Linked DNA regions of Homo sapiens. The protein of the gene in region 1 purifies or fractionates together with the protein of each later gene. This does not show direct contact. Each region holds a gene or a part of one and is shown in the gene's direction. Other genes may lie near its edges.

Region 1 (3,824 bases):
CCTGCCCTGCTTCTTGTTGTTGCTTCTGTTATTTCTGTCATTGTGAAGACGGATCCAGACACAGAAGAACAAAGACCCAGTCAAAGATCTTTTCCAGATTATGTGGTTTTGGCTTGTGCTCTGCAGTCCACTTTGGGTCATGCTTGCTGCGAGCACGTCCGTGAACGTCAGCTGTGGGCCTCGTGCAGGGACGCTCAGGCTGCTCCCAGCGGGACCACAGTTTTGGCCTCTGAAACACAGCTGAAGAAAGGCAGAGTGCTTTCTGTGATCTTTTAATCAATGTTTTCCACTTTTGCATTCCTAGGCTGCCCGCCTCACTGGAAGAACTTCACAGACAAATGCTACTATTTTTCAGTTGAGAAAGAAATTTTTGAGGATGCAAAGCTTTTCTGTGAAGACAAGTCTTCACATCTTGTTTTCATAAACACTAGAGAGGAACAGGTATGCCTGCCACATACTTGGTTGGGGAAAACTATAATTTAAGGATAGTTTACATCTGGAAATTGCAGGCTTGTTGGGGATTCAGAGATATCACGAATTCCTAGTCACGTAAACATGGGAGGCAACATTACAGAGATTTGGGTTTCATCCAGTGGCTAGAAGCATTCGTGGCATTGGAATTGTATCTTCATGATTCTTCCTGGAAGATATTGCCTATCAAGCCTGGAGATGTGTGGCTCCTTCTGGTGGCTGTTGAAATAATTATAATGCAGAGAAGCTTGAGGGCTGCCACCAGGCACCTGTGGGGACAGAGAGAGGCATGAACACTGTAGGGATGGAGTGGGGTGCAAGGGACCACGCATGGCTCCAGAGGAGTCAGGAAGAGCGAAGAAGGCTGAGGAGGCAGAGCCCACGCATGCTAATGCTAGTGTCCACTCATTAGACCCTCTATATGCCAGGCACCGTGAGAGGCATTTGCTCCCTTGAACCTCACAGCAACCCTAGAACATAGGTATTATTATTACCCTCATTTGACGGCTAGGAAAACTGAGGCCCGGCAAGGTTTATGCAGACTGAGACCAAAACTGCAGCCCATCTAGCAACAATGCAGCGCTTTCTTTGATACCACACCAATTCCAGTGGCCTCCTCCCTTCTCCCTAAGTTATCTCCAGCAGACACAATCCTGTAAACAGATGTTTCCTGTAGTAACTGACTGGAATGAGCACACGGCAGACAGTGACCAAGCACCTGGGCTTTAGAATACACAGACCAGGGCCCAAGCCCAGCTCAGCTACTTCTCATGTTTGTTCAGTGGGTTGTTATAAAAGCTTGGAGACACACTGCGTGCAACACACTGCACGTGGGGCCCAGCCCAGAGGAAGTGCCCAAGAATATCATGACTATTCCTATGATTAGGACATGGGAGAAATGGGTGGGTGGTAGGAGGAAGTGGGACCAATGGACATTCACTGGGTTGTCTGAGTGATTTAGAGGAAGAGCCTCACTTTAACATCCGTTGTAAACTTGTAAGAGGAAAAAAGTCAAAGCCCCCCAAACAGCACAAAACAAAGCAAGTAGCAAGAAAAAAGCAGAAAGCAAAAGCAGGCTACACATTCTGACAACCATCCTCTTTTAAATTGTCCTTTTTTCTAAATGTTAAATAAAAGAAAAAGGCCTGAGACATCTGTTCTGAAAAATAGTCACGCACCACCCCTGCTTTGTTTTTCAGCAATGGATAAAAAAACAGATGGTAGGGAGAGAGAGCCACTGGATCGGCCTCACAGACTCAGAGCGTGAAAATGAATGGAAGTGGCTGGATGGGACATCTCCAGACTACAAGTAAGTACTCAGAAGCTTCCAGATTGGTGGTCAGGCTCTCACTGTTCTGTTGTCACTTCTTGCCCGACTCCCAACAGTTTCTTCCTTAATGACCTCGTGTCCTAGACGCTCCTCCCAAACCGGGGCTCCTGGTACCAGTTGCATATTTCCCCTGGGGAAATCGTGGTTGACAGTTGATACGCTGTCAAATAAGGCTTTCCTTTCTTCTTTTCATGGAGTGAATTTTTTTTCATTTCTAAGAAAAAAATCATGAAACTCATAAAACCACACAGCATAATACTTCTGGCCAAGTCATTTTCTTTAAATGCTATGGGAAAAGATGATGAAGCCCAGGCAACCTCAGGCATGTTCAGCGTTCGCCCCAGGCGTGTTTCCAAGGACTGGGGAGCTCCCTTCAGGATCACACTGTGGGTGCCCCTGACCCCTAGTTGGGCTTCTAGGCAGAGTGTGATTAGAAACTACAAATGAGTAATTTTCCTGGCTGGGCACAGTGGCTCACGCCTGTAATCCCGGCACTTTGGGAGGCTGAGGTGTGCGGATCACTTGAAGTCTGGAGTTCGAGACCAGCCTGGCCAACATGGTGAAACCTCGTCTCTACTAAAAAAACAAAAAAAACAAAAATTAGCCGGATATGGTGGCGCATGCGGGTGATGCCAGCTACTCGGGAGGCTGAGGCAGAAGAATTGCTTAAACCCAGGAGGCGGAGGTTGTAGCAAGCCGAGATGGCGCCACTGCACTCCAGCCTGGGCCACAGAGCAAGACTCTATCTCAAAAAAGAAAAAAAAAAAAAAAAACTACAAATGTGTGATTTTCCTACTCATAGTAAGTTAAAATACACTATAAACAAAGTTGCATTTGCGGGATAACCATCCCCTAGAGGTTTGAAGATTCCCCATAAGTTCCATGTGACCTAAGTTCTATGAAAGGAGCAACAAAGAATAGAATCACTTTGAGGTACCTTCTTGGATAACCTAGAAGTCTCCAGGGCCTCATCCTACCCTAGGGGGTGTTAGCTCCTTCCCTAATTCTACCCAAAGATCTAACAATGACTGTATTGCATCAGTTTGATTATCACATCTCCATACTCTGGCTTTGCCTCTGACGGGTGTGAAAATTGCAAGGAACTGTAACAAATGAAGCAGAATTTATAAAAAAAATAAAATTAAAAAAAAAAAAAACCCTCTGAGTAACCTTTAGTTTGCTGGGGACGGAGAGGCCAGACCCTGCAGGGCTCCACCAGGCACAGGAGCATCACCGCATTGGAAGCACCTTCTGAGAGCACTAGGCAAAGTCCACGGTGTGGCCTCTGGGGCTGTCCCAGGAGAGGAGAAAACAAGGGTGTTTCAGGCCTAAGAGAGTCTCATGGGCATGGAGGCCTAGCCCTGTATCAGCTGAGCAGCAGGGAGGAGGGTCAGAGGTGATGGAGAAGCCAGATCGAGTTTTTTAAATGTCCCTATGTGCGTGTGCATGTGCATTTGGATAAACAGGCTCTTTTGTACTTTCAAATTCTCCATGTGAGTAGGATCAGAGGATAAAGGAGGAAACCAGAATAAGGCCATCTCTCTTTTGTTTTTATTTGTTTGTTTTTAAGGGACAAGGTCTCACTCTGTTGCCCAGGCTGAAGGGCAGTGGCACGATCATGGCTCACTGCAGCCTCTTATCTCCCCAGCTCAAGCGATCCTCCCACCTCAGACTCCCAAGTCCCTGGAATCACAGGTGCACATCACCACACCCGGCTAATTTTTAAAGTTTTTGGATAGACGTGGTCCACTATGTTGCTCTGGTTGGTCTCAAACTCCTAGCCTCAAGTGATCCTCCCACCTTGGCCTCGCAAAGCACTGGGATCAGAGGTATGAGCCACCGCACCTAGCCAGGCCAGCTCTTTATAAAAAATAAACATGTGGCGAAATATTGATTTGGAACATTAGAAGATTTTAGGTCTGCTCTGAAGGTGAGCCTCAGACTGCCCTTAAGGGCAAGTGGATATCTGCTGCAGGCCTGTCAGAGACTCGTCGGCTCCTCTGCGCCTGTCCTGGGGAGAGGA
Region 2 (3,824 bases), on another chromosome or scaffold:
ATGAAATAAACAGATTCCTTATATAAAATGGAATATTTACCTCTCCCCTTCCCATCACTGGCTTTCAGTAGTCTGGGAAAAATGAGATCACTTGTTTTGGTTGGCCCTATTAAATGCCGTTTGTATATTTTAGTCGTCTATATAGATTAGTGGTCATCAACTTGGGGCACTTTTGAAGCCCAGGGGACATTTAGCAATGTGTGCAAACATTTTTTATTTTCACAATTAGTGGAGCGCCACTGATATCTAGTAGACAAAGCCAGAGATGCTGCTAAGAATCAGATTATCCAACCCAAAATGTCAATAATGCCAAGGTTGAGAAATCCTGATGTAGAACTTAAATATGAAGCATGGAATCAGGGCTGGAAGAAAGGGGGAAATTCAGTCAAGTTTTGTCTTTCGTTTGTTTTGGGTTTCGGGTACTTGCGATGATTCAAGCATATGTTAAGCACTTAACTTACATTAGCTCTAATTCTCACAGTAGCAGGTGAGGTATCCCCATTTTCAAAGAGAAGACAGCAGTTCAAAGGTGTTAACAAGTTTAATTAAGGCACTTAGCTAGAAAGTAATGAGGCCTAGATTTATTTTATTCCAAAGTCCGTTCTTTCTGCATTACCACACTTCTTCAAGCAACAAACAGTCAAGTCATCCTTAATGATTCTTTTAAAAAGTATTTTCAGTTATATACACATTTACATTGTCTCACTTATGAAGAGAAACAAAGAGATGATATATTTATATCAAATTTCTAATGTTGATAATTCTAAATGTATTTGAAGCCAGGCATAGTTGCTTATGCCTATAATCCCAGTGCTTTGGGAGGTTGAGGCAGGAAGATCTCTTGAGGCCAGGAGTTCAAGGCCAACCTGGGCAACATAGCGAAATGCTGCATCTACAAAAAAATGAAACAGTAGAATTAGCTGGGAGTGGTGGTGTGCACCTGTAGTCCCAGCTGCTTGGATCACTTGAGCCTCGCTTGAGTTGGGAGTTGCAGTGAGCTATGATCACACCACTGCACTCCAGCCTGGGTGACAGAATGAGACCCTTTCTCAATAAATGTATGAATGAATGGATTTCATCATTGATAGAGCAGTAATTGAATTTTATAGCTGGCACTTGAAATTGTGAATATAATTCTTACCCATCCTTTCACTGAATATCAAAAATATTATCAAAACAACCTACCTAGAACAGGACAGGGAAGCTTTTAGAAAACCTGAGGATGAATTCTAAAAGAACAAGCTACAGAAAATAACATATTTTTTCCAATTCAAAGAAATTTCCTCCTCTGCAGCCTTCTCCCTCCCACAGAAACATCTCCTGTTTATCAAAGGTCCCAGCACCCTTGAACTCCATTCATAAGTTCAGTACAGAAAATTGGGATCATTAAATTCCTTGGAAAAGAATCCTGAAATTGCAGTATTTAGAGTTGGATTAGTATTTAGAGTTGAATGTGGATAGAAAATGTATAGTTATTGGTAAATTAAGGATACCGTGCTACAGTTTTTCTAATTTATGAGTTTTTGATATTTGGCAATATTTGGATATTTCTGTTATAAATGTCTATGAAAAACATGCCCATTGTAAAAAAAATTAGAAAAATTTCAAAAAATGTACTTAGCAAGGTTAGTATAAAATCATAATTCCATAATATTAAAAAAATCATAATCCTGTCATCTTAAGGCAAGGTAACTGGCATTTCCTTGTCCCAGTGTTGGTTTAGATAATATTTTCTTTATAAGAGATGGATATAGATACCATTTTTTGTTTGTATACATTTTTATCTAACTTTATGTCATAAGCCCAATGGCTGCATAGAATTCTCCCATATAGAGGTATCATAGTTTTCTTCCAGCATTCCTATAGTAATGGCAGTTTATGTTGTTTCCAGTGTTATGCTATAAATAAATAATATTACAACCTTTTTCATAAATCTTTGCCTTTCTGATTATTTCTTTAAGATAAACTTTCAAACAAGAATTGCTTGGTGTCAATGTTTTAAAATTTCTTATGCTGGGAAATTGACATCTGGAAAAGCAGGGTACCCACTGGATATTGGTACCCCCTGGACCCGTTCTTTGCCATCTCTTAAGAAATGAAGTGACTCAACTATTTAGTTAATTTTTAAATTATGAATAACATTGAACAATTTTTCACATGCATTTAGTCTTTACCTGTATCTTGAAGTCACGAGTGCATTTTCACCTTAGAGCATGTGGAATATCTTTGCCTGGAATTCTTTGCCCAAATCTTCAGATGGCTGGCTTCTATTTTTAGTTTAGGTCTTAGTTCAGATGTTAATTTCTCTGACTTCCCAATTTAAGGACTATGCTACAGTCCCCACACCCCATCCCAGGTATTTTTTGTAGTATTACCATTTTTTATTTTCCTTTTAGTACTTATCACTAGCTGAAATGATCTTGTTTTTTATTTCTATTTTGTTTTTAAGCTATTTATTTTTATTTCAATAGGTTTTTGGGAACAGGCAGTGTTTGGTTACATAAATAAGTTCTTTAGTTAAACTTTTTATTTTGAAATAATTTCAGTCTTACAGAAAAGTTGCAAGAATAATACAGAAATTTTTTATATACCCTTTACTTACATTCCCCAAATGTCATTTTGGCTATATTTGCTTTGTTTTATTCTGGATGGCTCTCTTCTCTCTCTCTCTCTCTCTCTCTCTCTCTCTCTCCCTTTCCCTTCTTTTCCCTCCCTCCCTCGTAAGACAGTGGTAAGTATTCATGTATTTGTATCTAAGCACATCTAAACACAGAAAAGGTAGAGTAAAAATACAGTAGAAACGATAGAAAAGGTACAGTAAAAATACAGTAGAAAAGGTAAAAATTGTACACTTGAATAGGACACTTATCATGAATGGAACTGTAGGACTGGAAGTTGCTCTGGGTGGGTCAGTGAGTGAGTGGTGAGTGAATTTGAAGACCTAAGATATTACCATACACTGCTGTAGACTTTATCAACACTGCACTTAGACTACACTACATTTATTTTTTAAAATGTTATTTCTTCAATAATAAATTAGCCTTAGCTTACTGTAACATTTTAACTTCATAAACATTTAAAATTTTTTTAACTTTTTACTTTTTTGTAATAGCTGCAAACATAAACATGTATTCAGCTGTAGAAAACTATTTTCTTTATATCCTTAGTCTGTAACCTTTCTTCCTATTAAAAAATGTTTTTAAAACTTTTTAAACTTCTTTTAAAAAACGAAGACACAAACACACATATTAGCTGATGCCTACACAAGGTTGGGATCATCAATATCACTGTTTTCTACCTCCACATCTTGTCCCACTAGAAGGTCTTCAAGGGCAATAACAGGCATGGAGCTGTCATCTCCTATGATAACAATGCCTTCTTCTGGAATACCCCCTGAAGGACCTGCCTGGGGCTGTCAGATAATTAATGTTTTTTTAAATAAGTAGAAGGAGTACACTCTAAAATAACTTGAATAGTAATAAATAGTATAGTATAATAAATATATAAACCAGTGACATGGCCATTTATTTTTATTAAGTATTATGTACTATACATAATTGTATGTGCTATGCATTTATACAGCTGACAGCACGGTAGATTTATTTATATCGGCATCACCACAAACACATGAGTACGGCATTGTGCTGTGATGATATGGCAGCTGCTGGGTGATAGGAGTTTTTCAGCTCCCTTATAATCTTATGGGACCACTGTTGCATATGCTGTTCATGGTTGATCAAAACATTGTCATGCATTGTCATGCTGTGCATGACTGTATTCAATGGGAAGTCTTATACTTCTTATTTGATATACTTGTTCTTTCT

What was found.
Region 2: the proteins of COLEC12 (region 1) and HOMER1 purify together in Homo sapiens (affinity purification with mass spectrometry; 2 studies listed by BioGRID and IntAct, with this or other methods). This does not show direct contact.

What each region holds. Positions count from the first base shown.
Region 1 is NC_000018.10:329,624-333,447, reverse strand, and holds part of COLEC12 (collectin-12), read left to right. Parts: intron 1-304; coding exon 305-441; intron 442-1,670; coding exon 1,671-1,780; intron 1,781-3,824. UniProt on the Homo sapiens protein: Scavenger receptor that displays several functions associated with host defense. Promotes binding and phagocytosis of Gram-positive, Gram-negative bacteria and yeast.
Region 2 is NC_000005.10:79,391,823-79,395,646, reverse strand, and holds part of HOMER1 (homer protein homolog 1), read left to right. Parts: intron 1-3,824. UniProt on the Homo sapiens protein: Postsynaptic density scaffolding protein. Binds and cross-links cytoplasmic regions of GRM1, GRM5, ITPR1, DNM3, RYR1, RYR2, SHANK1 and SHANK3.